5 separate regions of the Homo sapiens genome follow, and regions 1, 2, 3 and 5 are each linked to region 4. The links come from fine-mapping of genetic effects on gene expression. A gene starts in region 4. Each other region holds a variant in brackets. All regions are shown on one strand. Distances are from middle to middle. Region 1 has its middle 61 kb from the start of TMEM130. Region 2 has its middle 48 kb from the start of NPTX2. Region 3 has its middle 100 kb from the start of BAIAP2L1. Region 4 holds the start of NPTX2 (neuronal pentraxin 2). Region 5 holds the start of LOC105375419 (a long non-coding RNA gene).

What was found. PIP is the estimated chance that this variant, and not a neighbour inherited with it, causes the effect.
Region 1: its variant is the best candidate, but not a certain one, in a credible set for the expression of NPTX2 in aorta (GTEx, PIP 0.60).
Region 2: its variant is the best candidate, but not a certain one, in a credible set for the expression of NPTX2 in tibial nerve (GTEx, PIP 0.62).
Region 3: its variant is the best candidate, but not a certain one, in a credible set for the expression of NPTX2 in whole blood (TOPMed, PIP 0.50).
Region 5: its variant is the best candidate, but not a certain one, in a credible set for the expression of NPTX2 in tibial nerve (GTEx, PIP 0.80).

What each region holds. Positions count from the first base shown.
Region 1 is chr7:98,805,904-98,811,918 of GRCh38, reverse strand. No RefSeq gene overlaps it. Among named protein-coding and RNA genes, the nearest start is that of TMEM130, 61 kb to the left of the region's middle. The variant A/G (reference allele first, on the strand shown) is at 2,713.
Region 2 is chr7:98,565,933-98,571,947 of GRCh38, reverse strand. No RefSeq gene overlaps it. Among named protein-coding and RNA genes, the nearest start is that of NPTX2, 48 kb to the left of the region's middle. The variant C/T (reference allele first, on the strand shown) is at 3,729.
Region 3 is chr7:98,501,076-98,507,090 of GRCh38, reverse strand. No RefSeq gene overlaps it. Among named protein-coding and RNA genes, the nearest start is that of BAIAP2L1, 100 kb to the right of the region's middle. The variant T/C (reference allele first, on the strand shown) is at 2,782.
Region 4 is chr7:98,614,355-98,620,369 of GRCh38, reverse strand. NPTX2 (neuronal pentraxin 2) reads right to left here and starts at 3,085. Exons shown (of 5, transcript NM_002523.3): 1 at 2,483-3,085; 2 at 511-727. The coding sequence starts at 2,908. RefSeq lists an enhancer at 1,631-2,257.
Region 5 is chr7:98,657,120-98,663,134 of GRCh38, reverse strand. It overlaps LOC105375419 (a long non-coding RNA gene), which reads left to right and starts at 5,531. Exons shown (of 3, transcript XR_927793.2): 1 at 5,531-5,759. The variant T/C (reference allele first, on the strand shown) is at 2,258.

The DNA.
Region 1 (6,015 bases), 190 kb before region 4:
ATCGCTTGAACCCAGGAGGTGGAGGTTGCAGTGAGCTGACATTGAGCCACTGTACTCCAGCCTGGGCAACAGAGCAGGACTCCATCTCAAAAATAAATAAATAAATAAATGTACATTGAATCTTAATGTTTAAAAAATCAGTTTTCAAATACCATCAGGAATTTTTGAAGCAGATAAATCAAGCTGGCCAGGGAGTGGGTCAGCAATGACCAGGAGGCAGCACAGCAGCCCTGACTGCCCAGCAGAATCCCCTGGACTTCGCCAAAACCTCAGTGCTGCAGCCACCACCACCAACACCACCATTACCAACCACCACCACCACCACCACCACCACCACCACCACCACCACCAACCATCACCACCATCACCACCACCACCACCACCCACTACCATCACCACCACCATCACCACTACCAACCACTACCACCACCACCACCATTACCACTATCACCACTACCAACCACCACCACTACCACCATCACCACTATCACCACTACCAACCACCACCACTACCACCATCACCACTACCAACCACCACCACTACCACCACCACCACCATCACCACCACTACTACCACCACCACCACCATCACCACCACCACTACCACCACCACCACCACCATCACCATCACCACCACCACCACCACCACTATCACCACCACCATCACCACTACCAACCACTACCAACCACTACCACCACCACCACCATTACCACTATCACCACTATCAACCACCACCACTACCACCATCACCGTCACCACCACCACCACTATCACCACTACCAACCACCACCACCACCACCACTACCACCATCACCACTACCAACAACCACCACCACCGCCACCTCCACCACCTCTGCCAACCACCACCACCTCCACCACCCACCACCACCAGCCACCACCACCACCCACCACCACACCACCACCACCACTGCCAGACACTCTGATTTCTTTGGTGTTGGGTGAGACCTGGGCAGGGGGATTTAAGAAAATCTCACTAGATGATTTCACTGGAAAAGTAACAGTAGGCTGGTCTGGAAGTTAGGACAGCTGAATCTGCCTCCAGCTCTGCCCTGCCTTGTTGGGTGACATTGAAGCCACCTGGTTTCCTTTCTGAGCCTCAGTTTCTCTATATTTTCCTGCCTGGAGGCAGAGCTCCATACACTATAATCTGTTCCGCATTGTTACGGATGCTGGTGGTCAGTCACCCCTGGTTAGCAGAGATAGGCATTCACGTCTGCAGAAAAGCCACCCAGGAGGCAAGGATTCCTTTCTTTCTTTCTCCACCCTGGAGACGGCATCCCCCACAGCTCTCTGGGATCCTCTTGTCTGCTCCTGGCTCCCACAGCTTACAGCTGTTTTCACACAAAGCCTAAGACCTCCTTAGGCTTCTGGTCCTTGCAAGAGCCTTTTGTGGTGCATTGGGAAGTGGGAGAGGAGGCAGAGGGTGTACAGATGGGATGCGTACGCTTTGGCCTATTTTCCCAGCTTTCTCTGGCTCTGGCTGCTCCCCAGGGGCCTAGGGAGCTTGTGATCCATTTGGTGCCACAAGCCACGTTTTTGGCCTGTGTCCCAGTTTCTCCAGCCTGTGGGTTTCAGCTGTTCTCCTGCGGCCTGTAAAGCTGGAATTCACTGACCCCCCTCTCTGGGGGGTGGGTTTGGTTGCCATGGAGATGATTTGCCTCTCAGCATCTTACATCTTCCCAGGATGGGGCAGAGATCTGCGTTCAGATGTGGTCTCTGCAGGGAAGGGAGTCCAGCACAGCAACAATAGCATTAATAGCCGCAGTGACCCAAACGGGTTGAGTGCTTCCCCCAGCCCAGGCTCTCTGTGGCACCAGCCCTGAGCAGTCACTGCTGTGGACAGCCGTGGGGTATGGTGCTTGAGCACATTCAACAACCCAAGTGATGTTTTGTGTCTTTTTCTGTTTTCTGTGGCTATAACAGAAAACACAGACTGGGTGATTTACAAAGAAAAGATGTTTATTTAGCTCATGGTTCTGAAGGCTGGGAATTCCAAGAGCATGGCACCAGCATCTGGTGAGGACCTTCCTGCTGCATCATGACATGGTGAAAGGTGTCACATTGGGAGAGGGCAAGAGTGTGTCAGCTCAGGTTTCTCTTCCTCCTAGAAAGCCACCAGTTCCATCACGGGGGCCCCTCACCCTGATGGTATTATCTAATCCTATTGAGACAGGGTCTTGCTCAGCTGTCACCCAGGCTGGAGGGCAGTGGCGCAATCTTGGCTCACTGCAATCTCCGCCTCCCAGGTTCAAGTGATTCTCCTGCCTCAACCTCTCAAGTAGCTGGGATTACAGCTGCCTGCCACCACACCTGGCTAATTTTTTTTTATTTTTAGTAGAGGCAGGGTTTCACCATGTTGTCCAGGCTGGTCTCGAACTCCTGACCTCAAGTGATCCACCTGCCTCGGCCTCCCAAAGTGCTGGGGTTACAGGCATGAGCCACTGTACCTGGACCCCAGCACATTTTGAGCCTTTGCCACGCTTGCATTGGCTCACATTCCCCTTGGCAGGGTCACCTGGCTGAGCCCAACATCAATGGGGCTGGAGAGTTGTAAGTACATGCTCAATAACCCAACTGAGCCCAGCCACTTAGCAGTTGGGCAGACTGGGGCACATCCCCTGCTGTCTGCCATCCTCAGCTCCTGCCTCCCTAAAGTGGGAAAACATGCACAGCACCTGCTGGCTGTGAAC[A/G]TGAGTGCAGGTAAGGCCCAGTGCGTGACTGTGACCAGTCACCTGGGCCAGGTGTCACAGAGGGCAGTGCTGATGCTCTGTAAATCCCAGGATTTCTGTTCTCAGCTTGAGTGGGGAGACTTTCTTCTCCACGTTCTAAACAATTAGATATCAGCGTGGCCACCTAAAGCCCTGGTGGTCCACTCAGGCTTGCAACTGGGACACAGGCCAAGTCCTGACAGTAAGCATTTCCAAGGGGGACAAGAGGGATTTTCCTGGTTTGCTCCCCTGAGAGTTGTTCCTTGCTTTTATGTCCTTTCCGTGATGACTGTAATGAATCCTGACTCTGGTTTATATATTGTTTTTCTTTGTTTGTTTTTTGTAGAAACATGATCTCGCTATGTTGCCCAGGCTGGTCTCAAACTCCTGGCCTCAAGCGATCCTCCTGCCTCAGCCTCCCAGAGTGCTGGGATTATAGACCACTGGTTTATATTTACCGAGGACTGAGTTCTCTATTCTCTGCTCTTGTGCAGAAATTCCACGTGCAGGTAACGTCCGTTGCAACAATTTCAATCACCACAGTCGATCCTTACTGCCCCACACATCGCAACCCCCACAAAACTCACCTGTTCCTGATACTTCCACAGGACCTTCTTCCTCTTTCAAGAGCACTGGGAGGAAGGTATTGATCCACCTGGTGTTATTCTACACATATTTGCAGCTCAAAACCTACAGACACCATTGGATGCTTGCTGTGTATCAAGTCCTGGCTAGGTACTGGGGACCCAGCATTATCTGACGTGTCCCCAGTCAGGTGGGGGACACCTGGCTGTTGAGGGACTGACCTAACCTGTATCATGTCATTGGAATGATCTGTATATATTTCCTTTCTTTTCTTTTTTTTTTTTTTTTTTTTTTGAGACGGAGTCCAGCTGTCGCCCAGGCTGGAGTGCAATGGTGAGATCTCGGCTCACTGCAACCTCCGCCTCCCAGGTTCAAGTGATTCTCCTGCCTCAGCCTCCCAAGTAGCTAGGATTACAGGCGTGCACCACCATGCCTGGCTAATTTTTGTATTTTTAGTAGAGACGGGGTTTTGCCATGTTGACCAGGCTGGTCTTGAACTCCTGACCTCAAGTGATCCGCCCGCCTTGGCCTCCCAAAGTGCTGGTATTACAGGCATGAGCCACCATGCCTGGTCTCTGTATATATTTCTGCCTCCCCGGCCAGTGGGTAGGGCCCACATCGCACCCAACCTTCTCATATCCTTGGTAAACAGTTGACATCAGTGAGGGATGCAGGCTGGGGCTGAGTTGCAGTTTTCCTACAACATCACTGCTGCCTCCAGGGAAAGTTCTGGGTCCTTGGCAGCCTCCTCAGCATGCCCAGAAAACCTCCGTTTCATAACCAGAGTGGTCACCAGGAACCTCATGCCCTATGGGCCTCAGTCTTCCGTGGGCTGGAAAACCAGAAGTCTGCTTTTTTTTTTTTTTTTAAAGTTCTGCTGACAGCCCAAGAATCTTGTGATTTATACGATTAATATGAGAAGCAACATCATTATTCTGTTAATATATTATTCATTTCACTAGTGATCTATTGTCTCCACACCCAGCTCCATGAGTCAACTTTCCCTCCCTGCTATTTTAACAGAGCTGCATTTTAAATGGCGAGAACAGTACATTAAACATGTATAAGATGTAATCTCATTTGGAATGCGCTCTTCCAGCTGATCTGCCTCATAAGCATAAAAACAACAATGCTGCCTGGTGTTATCGGGCCCCACACGGCTGGGCAGCTGAGAACAAAATCAGGCTCTAATTAAGGAATATGTTAAAACTTCTGATTTGCACCTTCTCTTTGCCGGTAAGAGGAGGCAGCTCTGTCCCCATGCTGCCTAGTTTTCAGAGGCCCCAATCTTGAAGTGCCCCTGCTATTCCCCATCCTTGCTAACCACACCCCTGATAAAGCACATGTGGGGAAAGAGCAAAGGTGGGGCTGCTCTCTGTACAGTGGTGCACTCCTGTAATCCCAGTGCTTTGGGAGGCCGAGGCAGGAGGCTCACTTGAGGCCAGGAGTTCCAGACCAGCCTGGGCAACATGGTGAGACCCCCCTCTCTACAAAAAATAAAAAATTGGCTGGGCATGGTGGTGCATGCCTGTAGTGCCAGCTACTCAGCAGGCTGAGGCAGGAGGATTGCTTGAGCCCAGGAGTTGGAGGCTGCAGTGAGCTATGATCATGCCACTGCACTCCAGCCTGGGCAGCAGAGTGAGACCCTGTCTTAAAAAAAAAAAAAAAAGAAGCAACAGGTAATGGTTGAGATTAAATGATTGTCTCAGAGGAGGATGAGAGCTTATCTCAGTTTGGGTTGCCCAAGAAGTAGACCCTGAGACAAGGAGTCAGAGGCACATAGTTTATTTGGAGGTGGCCTTCTCCAGGAAGAGGGGGGATGGAGTGAGGCTGGACATAGAAAGCAGCCAATAAAGAGCAAATTATCAAGGAAGTTACTGCTATGGGCAGCTGGAGCTCAAAGCTGCCAGGAAGCTCTGGGAGACAGCATAGACACACACTTCAGAGTTATCTACTCCAGGGGTGAGGGAGCTGGGGTACTGATACTCCAACAGTCTCAGCCAGCATTGATTGAGGACAAAAAAACAAACAAACAAAAACAATATATAAACCTGAATCAGGATTTGTTAGAGTCATCATGGAGAGGACATAAAAGCAAGGAATAGTTCTTAGGGGAGCAAACCAGGAAAATCCCTCTTGTCCCCCTTGGAAATGCTTACTCTCAGGACTTGGCCTGTGTCCCAATTGCAACTGATACTCCAACACCCCTTGAGGGCTTTTGGGCAGTCATGTGTTCAAGCACAGGCAAGCAGGCACTGGTGGTCAGAGAAAGCCATCAGGCCACAAGGTATGCAGGCTGGCAGTTGGAAGCCCAGTGGCCTGCATGGAAGTGGTAAGGCCAAAGGGAATATGAATGTGATTCCGGCAGCATCTGCCATGAAGCTTCATCCATCTGAAGGAAGTACAAGTGCATGGCCACGAAGATGGAACCTCAGACATGAGCTGGGGGTGCATGTTCGGCCCTGTCCAGTCCTGTCTGTGGCTTGGCTACTACAAAACTCTTTTCCTCTGGGGACTGGCCCAGCACAACTGGCCAGGATGACACATCTCTCTCCCCTCTGATTCCAACTCCCACTGCCTCCTTTGATCATTCATTCAGCTTGCCAGGAGGCTCCATTCCAGGAAAGGGGGTCCCAGATAGTAAACATGAGTATTGGGTCTGTGGGAAAAGATAATGCTTGTGAACCACCTGGAGATGTT
Region 2 (6,015 bases), 48 kb after region 4:
TGTACAAGGAACTTCGTTAAAATGGGCTTCAAGGCTTTGAAAGGGCAGAGTGGGATGGAGGTGCTGTTGGAAGTGGAGTGGGGTACAGGCCAGGACTTCCATCGGACAGGCCTGGGTGGCCGCACATGTCCCTTCCCTCCTGACCTTGTCATGCAGAGAGTACCCATTTGCAGAAAGTTTAAGCCGTATGACTCAAAGAGATTCAGCCTCTTTTCAGCCACAGCCCTGGGCAGACGAATACGCTCCCTTGCCCAACTCACAGCCCCAGAGTTCTTCCTTCATTGCGGGTGCAGATCCACCTCGGGGAATGGTCTGTCTTGTTCATCACGGTCCCTCCAGGGCCCAAACAGAAGAGTTAGCCAGAAAATGTTTTTTTTCAGGCCATGAATGAGTGGATTTGTTTCTCTGGATGCAGCTTGAACATCCAGAAGCCAAGCAGAGCCAGGCAGAGGCCTTGGTTCTTGGAGTATCAACCCCTCCTTGCGAGCCCACCATAAGGCCAATGAAGCTCATATGTTTAAACCTGCAGATGTCAAGCCCCTGCTTAGGTTACATCCGCTAACCTTCCATTGGCTAAAGCAAGCCCATACCAAGGGAAACCATGACGAGGGCAGGGAAGGAAGGAAGAATTGTATGCAAATAATGCAACCTGCCCACCGCAGCTAGCCTGGAAGTGTCTCTGCGCCATGCAAATGTGCCTGCTGTTGGGGTTGGACCAGGGTGCCAACTCTCCCCAGACAGAGCTGGGAGAGGTGGGGGAGGGGTCCTGTCCAATGACTTTCTTTCCTCTCAACACAATCTTTCTTTATATAAGTTATACATTAAATCCAATTATAGTCCTGCTGACTGAGGACTCTCTCTTTAAAGTGACTTTGCCTACTCCGCTCTGATGCAGGGCATCTCAAGTCCATAATTCAACTCTGCAAGGGGAGTCCCTTTCCTTACTGCCCTGTTCTTTCAGGATGCCTTGCTGAGACCCCCAGGTAGCTGCTTCATGGGAGTGTTACTCCTCCAGGGCAGGAACCATATATTATTCATCTTGAAATTTATTTTTAGTTTATTTGTATTATTTTAGAGACAGGGTCTAGCTCTATTGCCCAGGCTGGAGTGCAGTGGTGCAATCATAGCTCACTGCAGCCTCCACCTCCTGGGCTCAAGCGATCCTCCTTCCTCAGCCTCCTGAGCCACGGGGACTACAGGCACACACCATCACGCCTGGCTAATTTTTTAAAAAAATTTATGTAGAGACAGGGTCTTGCTCTGTTGTCCAGCCTGGTCTCAAACTCCTGGCCTCAAGTAACTCTCCCCCTTTGGCCTCCCAAAGCACTAGGATTACACATGTGAGACAGGCCATGCGGCCCCTATGATGGAATTTTTCTGACTCTCTCAAACACCTATGTGGGGTTGAATATTGGCTTTGCACAAAGGCTGGTGATTTCAGCACCAATTTTCAACGTCTCTCTCCCCATGAAGCTTCAGCTCCAAGAGAGGGGTGGTTGTCTTGATCACCAGGGCACCTACTGTGCCTAGGAGGGTGCTTGTCACAGAGAGAAGCTGATAAACCACTGACGAATGAATGAATGAATGAATGAATGAATGAATCCTTGCTCTGCTCTTCCCACTGTCAGCTGCCTGTGACTTTTCTTTGCCCCTCAGCCTGACCGACAGCCTGAGAATTTTCAAGGCCATCTCTGCATTGTCCCTGCCATGACGCTGCCAAACAGGCGCTTATCGTTGGAGGACAGAACAGAACGTTCCCTTCCCCAAACCTTTCTTCCGTTCGGTTTTCCCGTTCGCCTCCCTCGGGCCCAACAATGGCTAATTCAAGGACATGAGTCACGCAGACGCTGGGTGTGAATTGATGGGGGCTGCGGAACAGATGTCACAAAAATCACATCCGCTGACAAGGTGCTGCTCCCTTTGTTTGCTTAGAGACCAGCCAAGAATTGGTCTTCTGGCCATAAAGGGGCCAGAAGTCCAGCCACCTGCTCATGCCCCGACCAGATAATTCCTAGAGGAGCCCCTCTGTCCCACCCGATGTGCTTCTGCGACTTCTGCTCCCGGCTCCGTATGGGGCTCGAATTTAGCATGTCACACAAGGAGGCCATTGTGTTCTGTTCGTCTTTGCAGAGAGAGCCGTTTCTGGGAGCAGGCACTGTGCCTGTTGCCTGAGAACCATTCAGAAGTGAGCACTTGAATCCCTGACTGTTCTGTTCAGCTATTACTCAGTTTCTGCCAGACATTCAATACACACACACACACAAAAAGCTACCCTCCTCGTCTCCAAAACACTAACAGGAAGACAGAGATCCATCCTGCTGCCACGGATTTTCTTTCTCCTTGTTTCTTTTTTTTTTTCTCTTTCTTTCTTTTCTTTTTTCTTTTTTTTCTTTTTTTTGGAGACCGGGTTTCGCTCTTTCGCCCAGGCTGGAATGCAATGGCGTGATCTCGGTTCACTGTGACCTCCACCTTCCGGTTTCAAGCAATTCTCCTGCCTCAGCCTCCCAAGTAGCTGGGATTACAGGTGCCCACCACCACTCCCGGCTAATTTTTGTATTTTTAGTAGAGACAGCATTTCACCATGTTGGCCAGGCTGGTCTCGACCTCCTGACCTCATGATCTGCCCACCTCAGCCTCCCAAAGTGCAGGGATTACAGGCGTGAGTCACCGCACCCAGCCCCTATTTCTCCTTGTTTCTGAGGTTAATGGGTGGCCCCTGGGGTCTGCAGGGGCATTTTTAATAGGCTCGTCCTGGCTGTGAGCTGAGGGGCACACACACTCACCGTCAATGCTGCCGTCATCTGGGAGGAGTAAGCCATGATCAGAGACCAGAGACTCAGCTTCATGAGGCAGGGAGGGATTCCCGGGCCTTAAGTGAGGCTGTGTTCTGGCTGCCTGCCAGGGACACGGCTCTGGATCCAGCTCTGGCCACTAATTAAGCCCCATTAGCTTTGCTGCCTGGGACTTGTGCCCCTAACTTTATGCCACGAGTACTTCCCCTCCACCTTTCCTGAAGTTTTTCCTTATTTCCAAATTATTCCACATCCTGCCCACCACTGCGGTAATTGGGGGCAAATATTTCAAAACCTTACACTGCATCAAGATGGGACATTTCTTAAAAATTGCTTCCCCAGGACAAGAAGTAGTGGCCCACACCTGTAATCCCAGCACTTTGGGAGGCCAAGGCAGGAGGATTGCTTGAAGCCAGGGGTTCAAGACCAGCCTGGGCAACATAGAGAGACCCCATCTCTAAAGAAACAAAAATTAGCCAAGTGTGGTGACACATTACCTGTAATCCTAGCTACTCAGGAGGCTGAAGTGGGAGGATCGCTTGAGCCCAGGAGTTTGAGGCTGCAGTGATTCCTGATCATGCTACTGCACTCCAGCCTGGGCAACAGAGCAAGACCCTGTCTCAAAAACAAAACAAACAAACAAAAAGCTTCCTCAGACAACATAGAATCAGAAAAATAAGGTCCTCTCACTACTCTTTTCAGATGTATCTTCCAGACTGCGGCTCCCATTGTCAGGGGAGTCATTTTGTTTCTGTAATGCATGTGTCATCTTTTACTTCTAGATAGCGTTTTGGGGTAGGGAAAGGAGTTGGGCAGAAATAAAGATGTCTAGGCGCCTTTTGTTCTGTGCAGACACATGCCTGAGAACTTTTCAGTGCCAAATAAAAGGAGAGTCTTTCTGGTCACAAGAGGAGTCTAATAATTTAGTTAAGCCTA[C/T]AAAGCAAGTTCCTTATCCGACTGTCTTTTATGATAATTGCTGCAGTGTCTGGCCCTGATGGGAGAGAAACTACAGCCCAGACCCAATGTCCTAATGACCTGGGGATGGCGGGCTTCACAGAGAAAAAGACAAATGTCAATTAGCACAGAATTTTGAAGACGAGCCAGAAATGTCTCCAAGCACAGGCCGGTGGCTGTGGATCAAAGGTTCCCTCCGATGCACACACATTTTCTTTTTGTTTTGCCATCTCTGAAATTAACTAACCTAAATATATATATACATTTAAATAGGAGCTAAGGGCCGGGTGCGGTGGCTCACACCTGTAATCCCAGCACTTTGGAGGCCAAGGTGGGTGGATCACCTGAGGTCGGGAGTTCAAGACCAGCCTGGCCAACATAGGGAAACCTGTCTCTACCAAAAAATACAAAAATTAGCGGGGGCGTGGTGGCACGCACTTGTGATCCCAGCTACTCGGGAGGCTGAGGCAGGAGAATCACTTGAACCCACAAAACAGAGGTTGCAGTGAGCCGAGATTGTGCCACTGCACTCCAGCCTGGGTGACAGAGCGAGACTCCGTCTCAAAAATAAATAAATAAATAAATAAATAAATAAATAAATAAAATAGGAGCTAAGACACCACCCTCCCCCGCCCCTCTATCAATTAATAGGTTCTTCTGGAACACAGGACCCAAGAACTGAGACATTCTCAAAGCCAGTGTGACATTCTCCAAACATCACAAAGTTAGTGAAAGATAATTAGATGGGGTTGGCCACAGCCTCGGTTTCTCGTCCCGAGACTAAATTTTTCCATCTCCCTGCCAGGGTCACGGCTGCCTGGGACCTACGAATCTCCCAGAATGTACAGGGATCCTATGGGAATAGACATGCCTTAACGGATTCCTCTGGGAATTTCATGGCCTCCGTTTCCCAATATTCAGGATGATGTGGAAGGAATGCAGTTTGGACTCCACCCTCTTAAAGGACCTCTGTAGTCCTGGCCAGGACAGCAGAAGTGGCAGCTCTCATATTCCTCCCTGATGCTTTGCCTCTTGTCTCTCCCCAAGGCCACTTGTAGAGATGCTTTCTTGCCTGGGGGCAGATGGGTGCACGCTGCTAGTTGTCATGGGAACCAAGGTTAATTAGTCGACCTGGATTTCAACTCTGATGTTGGTAGCGTGTCTCAGCAAAGACTTTTGGAAACAGCTGTCCCTGGTTGCACAATTCCCTCAAATGAAAAGTGCCCATAGTCTCTGCACTGCTTTGCCCTGGACTTCCTTCCCTATGTGTCATCTTGGGATTTTTCTGTAGTGTGGTACAAATCCTCTAGGAGTAGGGAGTAGCTCACCCTTCCACCTAGGGCTAAATCTAATAAACTAAGTGAAATGAAAGCTTCTGCTATTATCTGAGGCAGAAAGTCTATTTGGGGCTAAACTCTCCCCAGACACCGTGTTGTCATTTCTGCCAAAGGAACTGGACTGAAACACAGAAAAGCAAAGCTATTCATAGGGAAACTAGCAAATCCTTAGGCCTCACTCTGGTGTTAGAGGAAGGACAGACAGACAGATGTTCACATGCTGTAATGGACTCAATCACAGAATGTACACAAGAGGAGTAAATGAGAATGCTCTGTCCATTACAACATGCAAAGGAGGCATGAAGTGTCACCGTGATGACTTGAGGACATGACACACATCCCCTTCTTCACCCTGTCATTTACTCATTCATCCATCTATCCATCTACCTATCCATCCATCCATTCATCTATCTCTCCATCTATCCATCCATCCAACCATCCACCCAATGAGCTTTTATCAGGCACCTGTTATGTTTAGATCCCGACTTAGTCCATTTTGTGCTGCTACAACAGAATACCTGAGATTGGGTAATTTATAATGAGCAGAAATTTATTGACTCACACTTCTAGGGGGCTGGGAAGTCCAAGATCAAGGGGTTGGTATCTGGCAAGGGCCTTCTTGCTGTGTCATCTCATGGCAGAGGAGCAAAGAGAGGGCTAGGGAGAGCAAGAGATCAAACTTGCAGCCTCAAAACTTTCATAATCAGCATTAATTCATTAATGAAGGTGGAGACCCCATGACCTAAACACCTCCCATTAGGCCCACCTGCCAACACTGTTGCATTGGAAATAAAGTTTCCAACACATGCTTTTTGGGGGACACATTCACATTATAGCAGCCCTGATAGCAATTAGCATAATGCCAGGTCCATAGCAGGGGGTTAATTACGCTGCTGAACAAAGATACTGCCAAATATTAAAATATTCTGCTT
Region 3 (6,015 bases), 110 kb after region 4:
CAAGCAATCCATCTGCCTTGGCCCTAAAAGTGCTGGGGTTACAGGCATGAGCCACTGCACCCAACTGAGACCTTTCGTTAGCCATTCTTTCAAAGTAGGTTGGCTGGTGACCAAATCTCTTAGTTTCTCTTAATCTGAGGATGTCTTAAATGCCTCTTCATTTCCAAAGGACATTTTTACTTCATGTAGAATTCTGGGCTGACGATTCTTTTCTGTAAGCATTTGAAAACTGTTGTGCTTCTTCTTTTATGGCCTTTATGGTTTCAAATGAGAAATCTGCTATAATTCGAATTATTTTTTCATATAGATGAAGTGTTATTTTCTCTCATTGTGTTCCAGATGTTTTTTAGAAATCTGATTATGATGTGTCTTGGAATATATTTCTTTGCATTTTCCTGATGGGGTTTGTTTACCAAGCTTCTTCAACCTGCAGGTTTATGTCTTCCATCACATTAGGTGGGGGTGGGGGGGTTCAGCCATTCTTTCTTTGAAGAGTTTTTAGCCCCAACCTCTTTCTACTCTCCTTTCGGGACTTCTATGACATTAATGTTAGATCTTTTATTATTATCCTATGGATCCTTGAGGCTTTATACAAGCCCATTTTCTCCCTGTGGTTCAGCTTGGGTAATTTCTATTATTCTTTTATCAAGTTTGCCACTTGTTTCCTCTGTCCCATCATTCTGTGGTCAAGCTCATTCACTGAGGCTTCATTTTGATTACTGTATTTTTCAGTTCTAAAATTTCCATTTGGGGCCAGATGAAGTGTCTCACGCCTGTAATCCCAGCACTTTGGAGGGCCAAGGCAGGTGGGATCACCTGAGGTCAGGAGTTCGAGACTACCCGGGGCCACATGGCGAAACCCCTGTCTCTACTAAAAATACAAAAATTAGCCAGGCATGGTGGCTCGTGACTGTAGTCCCAGCTACTCAGGAGGCTGAGGCAGGAGAATTGCTTGAACCCAGGAGGTGGAGGTTGCAGTGAGCTGAGATCGTGCCACTGCACTCCAGCCTGGGCAACAGAGCCAGACTCCGTCTCAAAAACCAAAAAGTAAAAATAAAAATAAAAAATAAAAATAAAATTTCCATTTGTTGTTTTTCATATCTTCTATTTCATATCTTCTATTTCTTTGCCAGGACTTCCTATTCCTTTGCTGAGACAGTCTACATTTTCATTTGTTTCAAGTGGGTTCACAATTATGGAAGCATTTTTATGACAGCAGCTTTAAAATCCATTTCAGATAATTTTAACATCTGTGCCATCTCAGTGTTGGTGTCTGTTGATTGCTTTGTCTCATTCGAGTTGAGATATTTCTCGATTTTGGTATAATGAGTGATTTCTTAAGTTGAAATCACTCTTATAATATGTTACAAGACTGTGGATCTTATTTAAACCCTCTGTTTTACCAGAACTCCTTCGAATCACTCCAACAGGGAGGAGAAGGGGTGCCTCATTATCACTGGGTGGGGGTGTCAGTCTAGGTTCCACAAGGGTGTCCACCAAACCTGCAGAGGGAGCGGCTTTCATGAGCACCCAGCAGGAATGCAAGTATCAGTCCTCACTGGAGGCTTCCCTGCCACCACCTCAGTGAAGGGCTGGATTAGGGTGCCTCATTACAACCAAAAAAGGTGACAGTCTGAGATCTACCCTTGGCCTTTGCTGGCAGGAGTGGGCATAGGTTCTCAGTGCTTTCAGCCTTATTTGGCTGGAGTGCAGAGGTTATTGCCTAAAGTTTGGGGATTTTTTTTGAGTGAGAGTCTCACTCTGTCACTCAGACTGGAGTACAGTGGCATGATCATGGCTTACTGCAGCCTCAATCTCCCCAGGCTCAGGTGATCCTCCCACCTCAGCCTCCCAAGTAGCTGGAACTACAGGTTTGCACCACCATGTCCAGCTAATTTTTGTATTTTTCGTAGAGACGAGGTCTCGCTGTGTTGCCCAGGCTGGTCTTGAATGCCTGGGATCAAGCGATCCACCTGCCTCCACCTCCCAAAGTGCTGGAATTACAGGTGGGAGCCACCACCTCTAGCCCAAAGTTTTTTTTTTAATCTCATGAGGCTGTCCCTTTCCTGGCCCTTTCCTCTAGTCATTTGGCTTAAAAAAGCAGGCTTTTTTTGGAGTGTTTAAAAAAAAAAACCTGTACCTGTTGGCATTTCTAGGCTGCCAACTTCTTCAGAACGCAGTCTGGGATATATGAGACAAGAAGAAAACCCAGGGACCTCACTGCCAGGCCATTCCTTGAGTTCTGAACTCCCAGCCCATCTGCCTTCTCTCCCCACCATTCAGAGTCTTCATCTGTTTGTTTTACATCCAATATTCAAAGGTTTTAGCTGCAAAGGAGGAATTGTGAAAAGTATGTCTATTCCACCGTCCTGGAAGCTGTGGCTTTGTTTTTTTTTTTTTTTTTTGATAAGACATTTAATTCTCTGATCCATCTAGAATTCATTTTTACATAAGGAGCAACAGAGGGACCCCAGTTCCATGTTTTTCAGACTGTGCTAAGTTATCTCAATACCATGTCTTGGATAATCCCACTTTTTCTCTACTGATTTGAAATGCCAAACATTTTCATGCATATGGGAAACTGTTTCTGAATGTATTGTGTGCTATCAACCTGTGTGCTTCCTTATACCAATTGGTTTATTTGCTGTCTCATCCAATGTATGCAGTTTTCTAGAGCTTGTCTCCTCCTTGTTCTGCCTGGGGGGCCCCAAGAGCCGATTCTGCAGACCCTCTTCCTCACACCCTCTGGGCGTGTCTGTCTTAGTTTCCTGTGACACAAAC[T/C]AGGTGACTCAGAACAACACCAAACTCAAGCTGTTGCAAGGTTGTTTTCTTCTTGGGGGCTCAGGGGGAAGATCTGCCCCTTGCTTCCTTCCTGGCTTCTTGAGAAAGGGTCTCACTCTTGCTCAGGGTGCAGGTGCAGTACAGTGGTACAATCATGGCTCACTGCAGCCTCACTCTCCCCAGGCTCAGGTGATCCTCCCACTTCAGCCTCTCAAGTAGTTGGAACTACAGGTTCGCACCACCATGCCCAGCTAATGTTTGCATTTTTTGTAGAGATGAGGTCTCGCCATGTTGCCCAGGCTGGTCTTGAATGCCTGGGATCAGGCGATCCGCCTGCCTCTGCCTGCGGCTGCCGGCAATCCTTGCAGGACAGTGGCTTGTGCATACACCACTCTAATCTCTGCCTCTGTCATTGTATGCCTGTCTTCCCTCTGTGTGTCTGTGTGTCCTCCTCTGATGATAAGGACACCAGTTGTGTCAGATCAAAGGCTCCCCTACCACAGTTCGATCTCATTTTACCTTAACTCATTACTTCCATTACTTCTGCAATGACCCTGTTTCCAAATAAAGTCACATTCTGAGGTCCAGGAAGGACATGAATTTTGGGGGGTACACAATTCAACCCAGGACAGACTTCAAAAGGCTGCACTTGGCCAGTCACGATGGCTCGCGCCTGTAATCCCAGCACTTTGGGAGGCCAAGGCAGGCAGATCACCCAAGGTCAGGAGTTCGAGACCAGCCTGGCCAACATAGTGAAACCCCGTCTCTACTAAAAAATACAAAAACTAGCCAGACGTGGTGAGGGGCGCCTGTAATCTCAGCTACTCGGGAGGCTGAGGCAGGAGAACTGCTTGAACCTGGGATGTGGAGGTTGCAGTGAGCCAAGATCGCGCCACTGCACTCCAGCCTGGGCAGCAGAGTGAGATCCATTCTCAAAAAAAAAAAAAAAAAAAAAAAGTCTACGCTTGTCAAGACACTCCCTCCCCACCCTCCCCACAACATTCATTCACCTTCTCCAGCTCCTCAGCATGGGAGCTGACCAGAGCCTCTCTCCTGCCTCCAGGTGTCAATCACTCTGCACACTCCAGGAGCCCATCAACCCAGCTTCCCCAGCCTACTCGCACTCCACCACCTTTTGCATGGGACGTTCTTTTTCCCTTTTCTTTTCTTTCTTTCTTTCTTTTTTTTTTTTTTTTGAGATGGAGAGATGGAGTTTTGCTCTTGTTGCCCAGGCTAGAGTGCAATGGCACAATATCGGCTCACCACAACCTCCGCCTCCCAGGTTCAAGCGATGCTCCTGCCTCAGCCTCCCGTGTAGCTGGGATTACAGGCATGCACCACCATGCCGGCTAATTTTTTATTTTTAGTAGAGACGGGGCTTCTCCATGTTGGTCAGGCTGGTCTCGAACTCCCAACCTCTCAGGTGATCCGCCCGCCTCAGCCTCCCAAAGTGCTGGGATTACAGGTGTGAGCCACCACACCCAGCCTGCATGGGGCCTTCTTAAGAGGGGCAGCCCATCGGGGACTCACTTATGGTGGGAATTCCTTGGTCTGCATCACAGGTCACACTCTGCAGGGGAACAGGGCAAATGGGCACCAGCAGGGGAGGTCATCAGGGTGCCTCTGTCGGGGCAGGTGGGGCTCAGAGCTCTCAGAAGCATTGCACGGGAGGGCAGACATCCAGGAAAATATTTTTCCACCTGACACCTTGTTCAAAAGGCACAGAGTCCAGCCAGGTGCAGTGGCTCACGCCTGTAATCCCAGCACTTTGGGAGGCTGAGACGGGCAGATCATTTGAGATCAGGAGTTCGAGACTAGCCTGGCCAACATGGTGAAACCCCGTCTCTACAAAAATACAAAAATTAGCTGGGCATGGTGGCGGACGCCTGCAATCCTAGCTACTAAGGAGACTGAGGCACAAGAATCACTTGAACTTGGGAACTGGAGGTTGCAGTGAGCCAAGATCACGCCACTGAACTCTAGCCTGGGCAACAAAGCGAGACTCCATCTGAAAAGAAAAAAAAATGCACAGAGTCCTAGCAGAGTTGATAGTCTGTGCTGGAAACCAATTCAATGTCAAGCATATCACATAGAATATCCTTGTTCCTCATTAAAGCCCTGCAAGGGATACATTGTTCCCATTGTACAGGAGAGAAAACTGAGTCTCACAAAGGGTTAAGTAATGTGCCCAGGTCACATACAAGGAAGACACAGACAGGGGTTTGAACCAGCTCTGTCTGGCTTCTCCATCCCCCTTCCAAATGCACTGGGACTCTCTGAGGGCTCAGCCTGGCTATGCTGCTGGGTTTACCCTCTACTATTTATTGCCTGCAAGGCCACCGATATCAACCTTAAAAAAACTTCCTGGCCTGGCACGGTGGTTCATGCCTGTAATCCCAGTGCTTTGGGAGGCCGAGGCAGGAGGACTGCTTGAGGCCAGGAGTTCAAGACCAGGATGGGCAACATAGTGATACCACCCCCCTACAAAAAAAAATTGTTTTAGAAAATTAGACAGGCATGGTGGCACATGCCTGTAGTCCTAGCTACTTGAGAAGTTGAAGTGGGATCACTTAAGGCAGGAGATTGAGACCAACCTGGGCAACATAGTGAGATTCCATCTCTATGGAATATATATATATAAAGTTCCAGGCCAGGCTTGGTGGCTCATGCCTGTAATCCTACCACTTTCAGAGGCCAAGGCAGGTGGATTGCCTGAGCTCAGGAGTTCAGGAGTTCAGGACCAGCCTGGCCAACATAGAGAAACGCTGTGTCCACTAAAAATACAAAAAAAATTAGTCAGGCATGGTCATGTGTGCCTGTAGTCCCAGCTACTCAGGAGACTGAGGCATGACAATCGCTTGAACCAGGAGGCAGAGGTTGCAGTGAGCCAAGATTATGCCATTGCACTCCAGCCTGGGCAACAGAGTAAGACTCTATCTAAAAAAAAAGAAGAAAGAAAGAAAGAAGGAAGAAAGGAAGGAAGGATGGAAGGAAGGAAGGAAGGAAGGAAGGAAGGAAGGAGAGAAAGAAAAGAAAAGAAAAGAAAAGAAAAGAAAAGAAAAGAAAAGAAAAGAAAAGAAAAAAGAAGTTCCTGTCAATGACCTCCATCTTTAGCCAGGAAGAACTCAAAAGTATTGAATGTAATTTGTCCAATCAGCCTCAGGGAAAAGGAGGCTCTCACTACAATGTTACTTTGATGGAAATTTTATGTTCTCCCTTTTGAACTTGGAGAGT
Region 4 (6,015 bases):
GCATGAAACGGAGTCATGGGGAAGTGGCTTCATCAGCTTAGTGCATCTGGGAAAATTCCAGTCTTATAAACACCCACTACGGGCAAACCTACAACTTCAAACCCAAGCCACCCAGTGGTTTGGGGGTTGATGACGCAATCTGAATTATCCCCTGATCCCTCCCACTCTGTCTCCTGTGGGAGAAACTTACTCACCACAGTGTGAGCAGAGAAGAGAAAGATACACAGAATCCGCTGCCAGGACTAGTTAACAAAGGACTGAAACGCCCGTGTGGTTGCTTATCGAAGCTGGTCCTGGACACTTTCACTTTTCCCTGGATAATGCCAGTGGGGCTGGCAGCTCATTCCTGAGATGACCTTGTTCAGTCGCCTTTATTATTTGCTCACACACTCGGGAACCAGGCCCATGTGGTGTCACAATCCCTGCTGTCCATCAACCAGAATCGCATGTCTGACCACAAGTGGTGAAAATCAGGCCACTGCCAGACAGAGAAACAGGCCAGGCACACACCTCGCTCCAGCTCGGTGACCCTCTGCAGCAGCGCGTTCAGGGTGCTCTCGGTCTTCTGCCGGTGAGCCGAGGTCTCATTGTGCAGCAGGGACTTCTCGTCCTCCAGCTCTGCCACCTTGCGCAGAAGCTGCCTCTCCAGCTCCCCCAGCCGCTGCTGGAGCACCTCGCGGAAGTCGCCGGGCAGCCCAGCATTGGACACGTTTGCTCTGAGCTGGTGCTTTCAGCCACCGGGGAGGAGGGAGGGGCACAGAAAGAGTTAAAAAGAAATTGTGAAATGTGGCTGTGATGGCCCGACCACACAGGGAGAAGCTTCCAAAACGCAAGCCCTGAATCTTGCCACTGGCAGGCAGGGGAGCATCTCACTGATGCTTTTTTGGTATGGAAAAGATTTCAAAGTCAGATAAGAATTACTTTGCTGCAATATTTGAAACTTGTGAATCTAATTTTCCCTTCTCAAAAAGCCGTTTTTCTCCTCTTACTAAAAAGTCAATATTCTAACCAACGCCTAGAATTCTATGTTGGGTAGAGACCAAAACTCAGCTCCAGGATTTTTTTTCTTTTTTAAGAGTAAATCGATGGTTACACAAAGCCAAGGAGCTTTCACCTAGAAATGAAAACAGCCCCCAAGTTCCGGTCTGGCACCAAGGTAAATAACTATGCATGCAGAGATGTTTCTGGAAAATGACAGATCTAAAACGTTGCTATTCTGAACTCCAGCAATCTTTGTTTTTAATGCTGTTTCTAAATCCTCACTTCCTATTTCTCTTTCTCCCCTACCATCATGTGGTTCTGGAGGCTGTGGCAGGCTGCCTACCCATGAGTTCATGGCAAGCTATTTACCTTTCTCCACAAAGTGTTCCAAATTGTGAAATGCACATAATGGGACCTGCCTCATGCCATTCATTGTTCCAAGGATTAAAAAATTAAATGATGTGCCTGACTCATATTTAGTGCTCCAGAAATGTTAGCTGTTAGCAATCACAATGAATCAGGGGATATACAGATGCTGGAAATACTGTATTCAGCCCTCACGCCAAAAGAAACCCTAGAGTCATTTTTGCAATAATTACCACCTGTAATTTAAACCTAGTTTTGCTGAGAAGTATTTTCACAAAGGCTATTAACAGCAGTGTCCACACTTCTTAAAAAGGGTGGAGCCTAAAGATGAAAAATAATTGAAGATTTTTCTCTCAAAGTTCCAAACTGCACGCATTTTCAGAGATAGAGATGAGACGGAGGCGGGAGCGGGGGGCGGGGGGGGGGGACGGAGGGGGAGGGGGGGAGGGGGGGAGAGAGAGAGAGAGAAGGGAATGAGGTCCCTTCCCCTGAAGCAATCCGGAAGAGCACCTTAAAATGGTCCAACTTGCAGACACGGGAGTCTTTGAAGTTAACCAGAGGTTGCCCCTCTAATGCGCGCTCTGGGGTCGCCGGTGACCCCCTGCGCTCGCCTCCCTGCGACCTCCGCCCCCAGACTTCCGCCCCCTCTAGCTCAGCCTGACCTGATTTAAAGAAAGAAACACCACATGCCCGGGGCAGCTGACCTCCCGCGGCAGCCTCGCAGCAACCCGCACGGCCTGCGGGAGCGCATCCCGGCTCGCGGAGATTTGGAGATTTGCAAGAGGATAGAGGCTACCGCGTCCCCGGGTATTTGGCGCCCGCGGCTTGGCCGTCTGGGTTCGCTAGCCCGGACCTCGGGAAGTGCTCGGCGGATCCCGCTGGCAGTCCCGACGCGCGGGGGTGGAATTTAAACGTTTCCTTCCAGCAAGAGCAGCGGTGTGGGAAGGGATACCACGCAGGGGAGTTCCCGAGCAGGATCTAGATCCCCGCCTTTCACCCTCAAGTCCAGCTCACCCCCACGGACGATCACACCCTCCCCAGGGCCAGGCCCCCTTTCCCCATCCTCCCGAGTCTTCCGCCCCCGACTCGGGAGCGTCCCCATTCCAGGTCCCCCGCGCTCCCCGCGGGCCGCTACCTCGAGGCTCTCCAGGCGGTCCTTGAGGGTCTGCAGCGAGCGGCTGAGCTGCTCCACGACGTGGCCGGGGTCCCGCGGCAGGTCGCCCATAGTGTCCTTGCCCGTGGCCCCCGCGCCGCGCGCCTTGCCGCCCGCCAGCCCCTCGCAGCGCGCTAGCTTGCCCGTGAGCTCGCGGATGGCCTCGCGCTGCGCGCCCAGCGTCTCCTTCTGCTGCACGACGGTCTCGCGCAGCTGCAGCACCGCGGCCCTCAGCTCCTCCTCGGGACTCTGCGCGCCGCCCTGCATGGGCATCGCGGGCAGCGGGCAGCCGGCGTGCACCGCCTCTGGGGGCAGTGCCGTGCACACGAAGCGGCTACCGGGCGCCGGGCTGTCCTGGGCCCCAGCGGCCACGGCGAGCGCCACGCTGGCGGCCAGCAGCGCCAGCATCCCGCCGCCGCTGCCGCGCTCAGCTCGGCATGGGCGAGCGGGCGCCGTCGGGGCGCTCCGCGGGAGGCGCCTTCGCTGCTGGCAGTAGCCGCGCTGTCGTCTCGAGGGTCGCGTGCACCGCGGGGCAGAAGTCTCCTGCCGTCTCACAGCCGCACCCACCGCGCTGCTCGGCACTCTGGCCTGCCGGGTCCGCGCGCCCTTTCTTAAGCTGAGGGGCGGAGGGGGCCGGCGTGTGGGGCGCGCGCCACGAGCTCTGATTGGCTCGGCCGGGTGCGCGTCACGCAGTGGGCGGAGCGGGGCGGGGCGGGGGCGCTTTCCGTTGCGCGCCTGGCGGCCGGGCGGGAGCGTGGGCCGGAGCCTGAGGCGAGAGCGCGAGGTCCCGGGCTCTGCCTCAGGAAAGGAGGCCTGAGGTGGAAAACGACACTGGGGCTCTCGAGAGCCTCGGCTGGCCGTGCCCAGGCGCCCCTCGAACCCACCCGAGGACGCGGGCGTCACAGGCTGAGGAGAAAGTGGGAACCCCTCGGTGTCCCGGTGCCCCTTTCTCAGGGTGGCTTCTGGCGCGGCACGGGGCCTCGCTGCGCGTTTGCCGCCGCCCTCAGGGAGGCGTTTTCTCCAGCAGGAGCAGCCCCCCAGGCGGGACTCGAACCCCGACTGCCATCGCGAGCCACCCCCGCGGCAGGCGTGGGCCTTCTCGTCAAGGCCCGGCCACCTCACTCTCGAGGCGGGAAGGAGCCGCACGACGGCCGCCTCCGGATGCAACGGTCCCCGGGACGCGCTCCATGGCCCCGCCTCCACCCCCCGCGCCAACTCGGAAAACGCTCGGGAAGAATCCCGGGGGCCTCGGGGACCGGGACCAGGACCAGGCGCCGGACGCTGATGGGAAGGAGGGGACACCCGGAGTTAGGGACAAAGTCACGAGGCCACTCGCAGAGCCCTCGCGCGCGTGTTCATCGACTGCCCCCTGGGCGGTGACCTTATTCAGCAAGACCTGAGCTCAGGGGCGGGGTGACATCTAACTGGAGTCATCATGATGGAGCCACGTGGTCCAACAGTGCCCGGTCCTTGTAACCAGGAGGGCCCGCAGTGTCACCACTTCCTCGAAGTGAGGCCACTGCCCTCAGCTTCTTGGAGACAGCAGATATGAGCAGAAACCCCCAAAAGTCAGGAGCAAATTTGTTTCAGAATCTCTCCAAATCTGTGGCTTAAAACAAGTTCAGAGGGATTTTGGTGCACAGCTACAGACTGAGCTGGTTTACTGCACATTTATAAATGGAAATCTTTATTTCTTTTCCTCTCTATGTTTTTAAGAAATCCTGTTGCAAGGTCATTAATCACGTTATCCATTATACCACAAACAAATGGATTTGTCACTTGTGCGCAGAAGCCGAGGTTGATTCTGAAAGCAAATTGTACCAAAATAAATGAAATTATTATGATAATATAAACTAGACTGCAGTGATTAATCTCTAGAAACCAAATTCTGACCTGCTTTGCACTTCAAACAATAGCTTCTATTATGTAAATAGTTGTGGGGTTTTCAAGGACATTATTGCTAAATTATAAGAAAAGTTCTATTCTTGAAAATCTCTTCGTGGATAAAAATGAGAGACAGGAACCTGGTCTGCAAGGTATCCAAAGCAGAGGACAATGGAAGTAATGATGGTTCAGGTAAGAATATTCATTAGCAGAAAAAGGTATGGATGGGAGATTTGGGGTGAGTAATGGGCTCATGTTTCTGTTAGCCTGCATCCCCAGGAGGTGTCAGTTTCACCTTGTTAAGTATGACCTTGACTGGACTCATTCTTCCTACATCCTTTTTCAGCTGGATGAAAACTCGAAAAAGTTCAAATAAACCTACATATGCACAAATTACAATAATGAAGGCAACAGGGTTGCAAAGCACTTTATGCCTTGTTACATTTCAGATGATTCATAAGGCACCAAATCCAGACGTTTTCAAAATTATTCAGATAACGATGTGACTTTTCCATTTTCACTCATAGCTTTGATGTTCCTCTTTACTTGTAGACCTAGGTGGCCCTTAATTGGATGTGACAATAGAGTATTATCGTTCCTGTATTGTTCCATATATCCTTTCTTGACACACAGACTGATACATTCATATTTGCAACTACTTGAAGTAGAAGCTTGTTCCTTTAATAATTAAACAAAATCAAGTATCTTTCCAGAATTCTAATTTCCTCCTGAACAAAGAAAGCAGTGTACAAGAGTAAAAATAGCATATATCCCAATATAATTACTCCTAAACGTCTTAAAAGAGATTCCAGTATGAGAAGTGATCAGTGAAATTGCCAAAGCTCAAATGGAAAGACCCAGACATTTGAAATGTTATTTTCTTTGGAGGCAGTATAATTAGAGGCTTAGTTAACAGAGTACATGCTATTTACAGTTTTATTTTATCTTCCTGGTGCAATGAAAAGCCTGCTGGCTTAGGAATGAGGGATCTAGTGCTAATTCTAACTCTGTCACTAGCTAAGTGGTTTGGGGCAAGTCATTTCTCCTCTGGACTTCAGTTTTCTTGCATATAAGATAAGGGAGGGGCGGGGGTTGGGCACGGTGGTTCACACCTGTAATCCCAGCACTTTGGGAGCCCGAGGCAGGCAGATCACAAGGTCAAGAGATCGAGACCATCCTGGCCAACATGGTGAAACCCCGTCTCTACTAAAAATACAAAATTTAGCTGGGTGTGGTGGCGCCCGCCTGTAGTCCCAGCTACTTGGGAGGCTGAGGCAGGAGAATCGCTTGAACCCAGGAGGCAGAGGTTGCAGTGAGCCAAGATCATGCCACTGCACTCCAGCCTGGTGACAGAGCGTGACTCCATCTCAAAATAATAATAATAATTTTAAAAAGATAAGGGGATTAGACGCAACTGTCTAAAGGTGCTTTGGCTGTACTCAAGAGCATGATAGTTTGAAAAAGAAGGAATCACTGTTGGTGTGAGGAACGTTTCAGAAACTTGTTTTTTCTGTGTGTGTTATTAACCACCTGTAGCCAAAGGTGAATGTGGAAAGGCAGGGTCGTTTTGTAGTACAGCAGGTAAACCTTCATACACGGAGACGCCGTAGTTGTGGTTAAAACCTGCTTTC
Region 5 (6,015 bases), 43 kb before region 4:
CTCATAAGTAGGAGGTGAACAATGAGAACACATGGACACAGGGAGGGGAACATCACACACTGGGGCCTGTTGGGGGGTGGGGGGCTAGGGGAGGGATAACATTAGGAGAAATACCTAATGTAGATGATGGGTTGATGCGTGCAGCAAACCACCATGGCACGTGTATACCTATGTAACAAACCTACGCATTCTGCACATGTATCCCGGTACTTAAAGTATAATAATAATATAAAAAAAGCATTGAAGGACAACCTCTTTCTAGGGGCTGGGGGTTGGAACAGAGGCTGGGCTGTGCTAGCTGGTTCCTCCTTGTTTCAGCTGTCTTTCCTGCATTCTGAGTGGGAAAGAGGTCGGGGGGAGAACTGAGACCATCCAAGCCCACCCAGAGAACTGTCCCATACTGATTGATTTCTCTATCTGTCCCTCACCTCTGCAAATAACCCCCGCCCCTCCTTAAACAGTCTCTGCAAAAATCCCAGCCTCTAGTGAAACCATCACCCGAATAGTGAACATAGTACCCAATAGTTAGTTTTTCAACCCTTGTCCCCCTGCCTCCCTCGCCCCTTCTGGAGTGAGGGTGCACCTGTTTCCTGGGGGACTGTGAGTCACCCATGTGGTCTGCTGCTCCTCACCTCCGCTCCCAAGCTGCCACCCCACCTGAGGAGCAGTGCAGGGGCCAGGGCAGAAAGGGGCTATGCCAGATGTCCTCCCAGACTATGCTGTCCCAGGCCACCCAGAGAGCTCAGGCTGTAGCCAGGGCCTTGGGGGAGCAGTGTGTGACATTGTCACCCAGTGGTAGCCTTCTCTCCCCCAAAGGAGCCCAAGCGTCAAGCCAAGAGTGGCACCATCTTGAGGGTGAGAAGGACAAGCATGAAGTTGTCCCGTGCATGTGAGAGGCTCAGGGGATGCTTCACTGGTGGGAGCCCTAGGGGACACTTGTGTTTTCGTCCCTGGAGCTGTCCTCACAGGCTGCAGGACTCACGGGCAGCACTGGCCTGGGAGCCACAGATCAGCTGGGAGACCTCGGGCACATTGCTCTCCCTTGGGAGTCTCAAGTCCCTCCTCTGTGGAAAAAGCTGAAGTGAAGGAGTGTTATCGGGCAGTACTCTTAAGTTGTAAGGAACTGAAACCTCACACATAACATCCTTAAATAAAAAGGATCTTTATTAGCTCACAAAACTGAAAATTCCTGAATGGGTGGGCTTCAAAGTCAGGTTCAATTCAGCTGTTTGACAACACCAAGGCCCTGGTGTCTTTGGTCCCTCCACGCTACCTCACCAGAGTCAGCTTCACTGAAGGCTGGTTTCCCTCATGGTCACAAAAGGGCTGCCATTGCACTGGGGCTTCACTTCCCCCAAGGCCTCGCAGAACCTCCTGTTGTGCCATCCTGGCTGGAGAAGGTCACCATCCCCATGGCCGGACCAGTAGAATTTAATGAATTGAGTCAGATCAAAGTCAAACAGGGTCCACCTCAGAGACAGGGGAAGAGGGAGTCCTGGAGCAGAAATCTGATTTTTTTTGTTGTTGTTTGTTTGTTGTTTGTTTTTGAGATGGAGTTTCACTCTTGTTGCCCAGGCTGGAGTGCAATGGCACGATCTCAGCTCACTGCAACCTCTGCCTCCCGGGTTCAAGTGATTCTCCTGTCTCAGCCTCCCAAGTGGCTGGGATTATAGGCGCCCACCACCACGCCCAGCTAATTTTTTGTATTTTTGGTAGAGACGGGGTTTCATCATATTTGTCAGGCTGGTCTCGAACTCCTGACCTCAGGTGATCCACCTGTCTTGGCCTCCCAAAGTGCTGGGATTACAGGTGTGAGCCACTCTGCCTGGCCAGAAATCTGGGTATTTTCAGTTGGGAGGCTGGGCACACAGGCTGGGTAGCACCCCTAACTATGTCTACTGTGTAATCTCAAAAGTCCCTGACAGCTTGAACGCTGTTGCCAACATTGTTGAAAGTGCCAACAAAAGAATCATGAAATCTATATTATAAATTTGTTAGGAGACTTTCTTTTTAAAATGAAATTACCTTTTTTTTTTTTTTTTTTGAGACGGGGTCTCACTCTGTCTCCTGCTTTTTGACTCTGAATGTGAGCCTGCTTTCTGACTCTGGGGTCAAGTGCTCCAGAAAGCATGGGCCTCTGCCGTGCCAGTTGAGCAAGTTCTGGATTTACTTAGCACTGGCATCCACGGAGACTGAGACCCGTATCACTCACCCCTACAAATGAGGGGGTTGGGCTTCCAAGAAGCCTGGGGGTCAG[T/C]GGAGGCTGAGGGCCGGCAGTCGTCTGTCATTGAGCAAATGTGCTCGCTCTCCAAGGCGCACAAAAGCCAATACCATGGCCACAGCTTTAGAGAAAAGCAAGGGCTTTACTGTAAGACAGCCAGGAGACAGGAGGCAGACTCAGATCTGTCTCTCTAATTTGGAGTCTGGGGCAAATTCTAAGGGATCAAAGAGCAAGAGAAAGGATTTAGGAATGTTGGCATGGCAGGATCTGGTTGGAAGGCTTCAAAATGGACAATTTATAGTCAGGTATGTTGAAGTGGATTTTAGCCCCAGATCTTCTGGGCCAACAGACCCTCGCTTGTGGACGAATTTCAGTATTTAGGTTTTTTGTCATGTCCCAGTCTTCTTGGTTCCAAGGGGAGAAATTATTGATTCCCAGTGTTGTTAGAGGTCAAAGCTTTTTCTTTTGTTCCTTCTTTCCCCCACCACCCTTTTTTGTTGTTGTTGTTGTTGTTTTTTTAAGACAGTGTCTCACTCTGTTGCCCAGGCTGGAGTGCAATGGTATGATCACAGCTCACTGCAGCCTCAACCTCCTGGGCTCCAGTGATCCTCCTACCTTAGCCTCCCAAGGAATGGGGACAACAAAGCATGTGCCACTATGCCCAACTAATTTTTAAAATTTCTGAGTAGATGGGATCTCACTATGTTGCCCAGGCTGGTCTCAAACTCCTAGACTCAAGCAATCCTTTTGCCTTGAAATCCTCTTGCCTCTGAAAGTGTTGGGATTACAAGCATGAACCACCATACCCAGCCTCAAAGCTTTTTCTACCATTCATGCCTTGGCTACATGACTTACAGCTGTTATAGCTACAAGATAAAACTTGACATTTTGCTATCAACAGAGTAGGCCCAGCTTGGGCAGGTCCCGTGGCTCCACCTGCAACTGGAGAAGGTGGTCTTCCTGCAAGTCCTTGTTTCTTTGCTGATTGTCTCTCTCTGGCTGAAATATGAGCCCTGGGAGGCTGAGGGACTCATCTGTATTAACTGTCACCTGGAACGGCAGCAGGCACAGAGCATAAGCCCCAGAAATACTGAGCCCTAGAAATACTGGTGAAAGAGCAGGCCTTGCTCAGCCAGTGGCGGCTTCTTGGTTCCTCTTCTTTCTTTCTTTTCTTTTTTCCTTTTTTTTTTTTTTTTTTGAGATGGAATTTTGATCTTGTTGCCCAGGCTAGAGTACAGTAGTGCAATCTCGGCTCACTGCAACCTCCGCCTCCCAGGTTCAAGCGATTCTCCTGCCTCAGCCTCTCGAATAGCTGGGATTACAGGCATGCGCCACGACACCTGGCCAATTTTTCGTATTTTTATTAGAGACGGGGTTTCTCCGTATTGGTCAGGCTGGTCTCGAGCTCCTGACCTCAGGTGATCCGCCCGCCTCAACCTCCCAACATGCTGGGATTACAGGTGTGAGCCACTGTGCCCAGCCTTGGTTCCTCTTTCTATGTATGTGCAGCTCTAAGAGAAAGGGGGGTGTGTGTGCCAATGGAGGGTCCCAGCCAAAGCTGCCCCTGCCCAGGCATGGGACAATGCATTCCCAGTGCCTCCCAGGGACATGCCAAGCCCTCCCATCCGGTTACCTGGCATCTCCGTGCTGTGACCTCAGAGAAGTCACGGTTACCCTCACTCCCAAACACTTCCCACCTGGAATCACATCGATCAGGCGGGCCAGATGGTTCCCAGAAATAGCAAGACACGGCTGGACAATTTGATTAACTTGCCTAATGAACTCTGAATTCACTCCATTTTTTTTCCATGACAACTGTATTTTCTCTCTAAAATTGTTATTGATTCTTCATATGTGGAGACGTAGGTGGGGCAGGAAAGCACATTTTGCACACGGAGGACAAGAAACCAAGATGTGGAGGTGGAGAGAGGAGGAGGTGGGCGAGGGCAGGACTCAATGTCTATCTTGAGCCCATGGTGGTCTTACGGCCCCTTCGGAAGACTGTCTTACACCTGGCCATTAGTCATCAGTGGAGGGGGGCCAGCTAAGGGGCGGGTATGGTTGCCAGATTCTGCAAATAAAAATACAAGATACCCAGTTAAATCTGAATCCAGGGCCAGGCGTAGTGACTCATGCCTGTATTCCCAGCACTTTGGAAGGCTGCGGCTGGAGAATCGCTTGAGCCCAGGAGTTCGAAACCAGCTTGCCCAATATAGTGAGACCCCCATTTCCACTTAAAAAAACGAATTAGCCAGGTGTGGTGGTGCGCAACTGTAGTTCCAGCTACTGGGAAGGCTGAGGCGGGAGGAGCCCAGGAGCTCCAGACAGCAGTAAGCTGTGAACGTGCCACTGCACTCCAGCCTGGGCAACAGAATGAGACCTAGTTTCGAAAAGATTTTTAAAAATTTGAATTTGGATAAACAAATAGTTTACAGTATAAGTCTATCCTATGTAATATTTGGAATATACTTCTACTAAAAAATAATTTGCTGTGTATCTGAAATTCAGATATTTCTGGGCATCCTGTATTTTATCTGTCAACCCTAAGAGTGGTAAGGTGTTACGTCCTCGGGTGCTCAAAGCTGGGCTGCAGCCCACAGACACCTACTCCCAGAAAGCTGGTCCAAGCAGGGACTCAGATGCTACAGGACCCGCCAATGCTCTTCTAACTGCTGTTCCTTCTTTCTGTCCACCCCGTCCTTCAATGCATAGGTCGGGACTCTTCCTCCCTGATGGGTTTCACGAATCAAGTTCCCACCTGGGTCGCGTCTCTGAGCCAGGAGTCGAGGGACATAAACGTTGCTATTTACTGCAAGAGCTTATCCTGAGCTTGGCCTGCAGGCAGCAGCGCATGTGCCGATTAAACCCGCACACCTCCGTGATGCTTCCCCGCCCATTTATCCAGGAAGGAAACAAGGCTCCAAGCGGGAAGGCGCTTGCTGGAAAGGACTCAAGACTCAAACCCAGTCCCCTGTCCCCGGCCATAGAGGTCACATCTAGAGATTTCCCCAGGAAAGTCACCAGTGTCCCGGCTCTGATGCGTCAGGGTCGGGGCGAGGACAGAGGGGACGAGGCAGTGTGGGGTCAAGGCCCCAACACTCTGGCTAAAAGTGGCCTCTAGGGTGGGCTGGGTAACCGGAGAGGGACTCTTAAGTAGCCGTCTGTGTTCATTTGCTAGGGCGGCTGGGACAGAGTACTGCAAGTCAGATGGCTTAAAACACCACGAATGTGTCCTCTCACAGTGCTGGAGGCCAGAAGTCTGATATTGTGATGTCAGTGGGGCCGCGCTCCCTCTGAAGGCCCCAGGGGAGGCCCCTTCCTTGCCTCTTCCAGCTTCTGGTGGCCCCAGGCCATCCCTGGCTTGCAGATACGTGGCTCCCATCTCTGCCTCGGTCTTCACATGGGGCCTCCCGTCTATGTCTCTCTGTGTGTCCCGTCCTCTTTTTACAGGGACACCAGTCATTGGATAAGGGCTAATGATCCTAATCCAGTGTGAGCTCATCTTAATTAATTACATCTGCAAATGCCCCATCTCCAGGTAAGGGCTCATGCTGCAGCTCCAGGTGGACGTGAATTTGAAGGACACTATTCCACACACTGCACTGTCTATCTATCTATCTATCTATCTATCTATCTATCTATCTATCTATCTATTGTCTATCATCTATCCATCCATCCACCTATCTATTCATCATCTGCCTATCTATCCGTCCACTCATCTATCTATTCATCATCTATCTATCCATCCATCGACCTATCTATCCATCTTCTATCTGTCCGTCCGTCTATCTGTC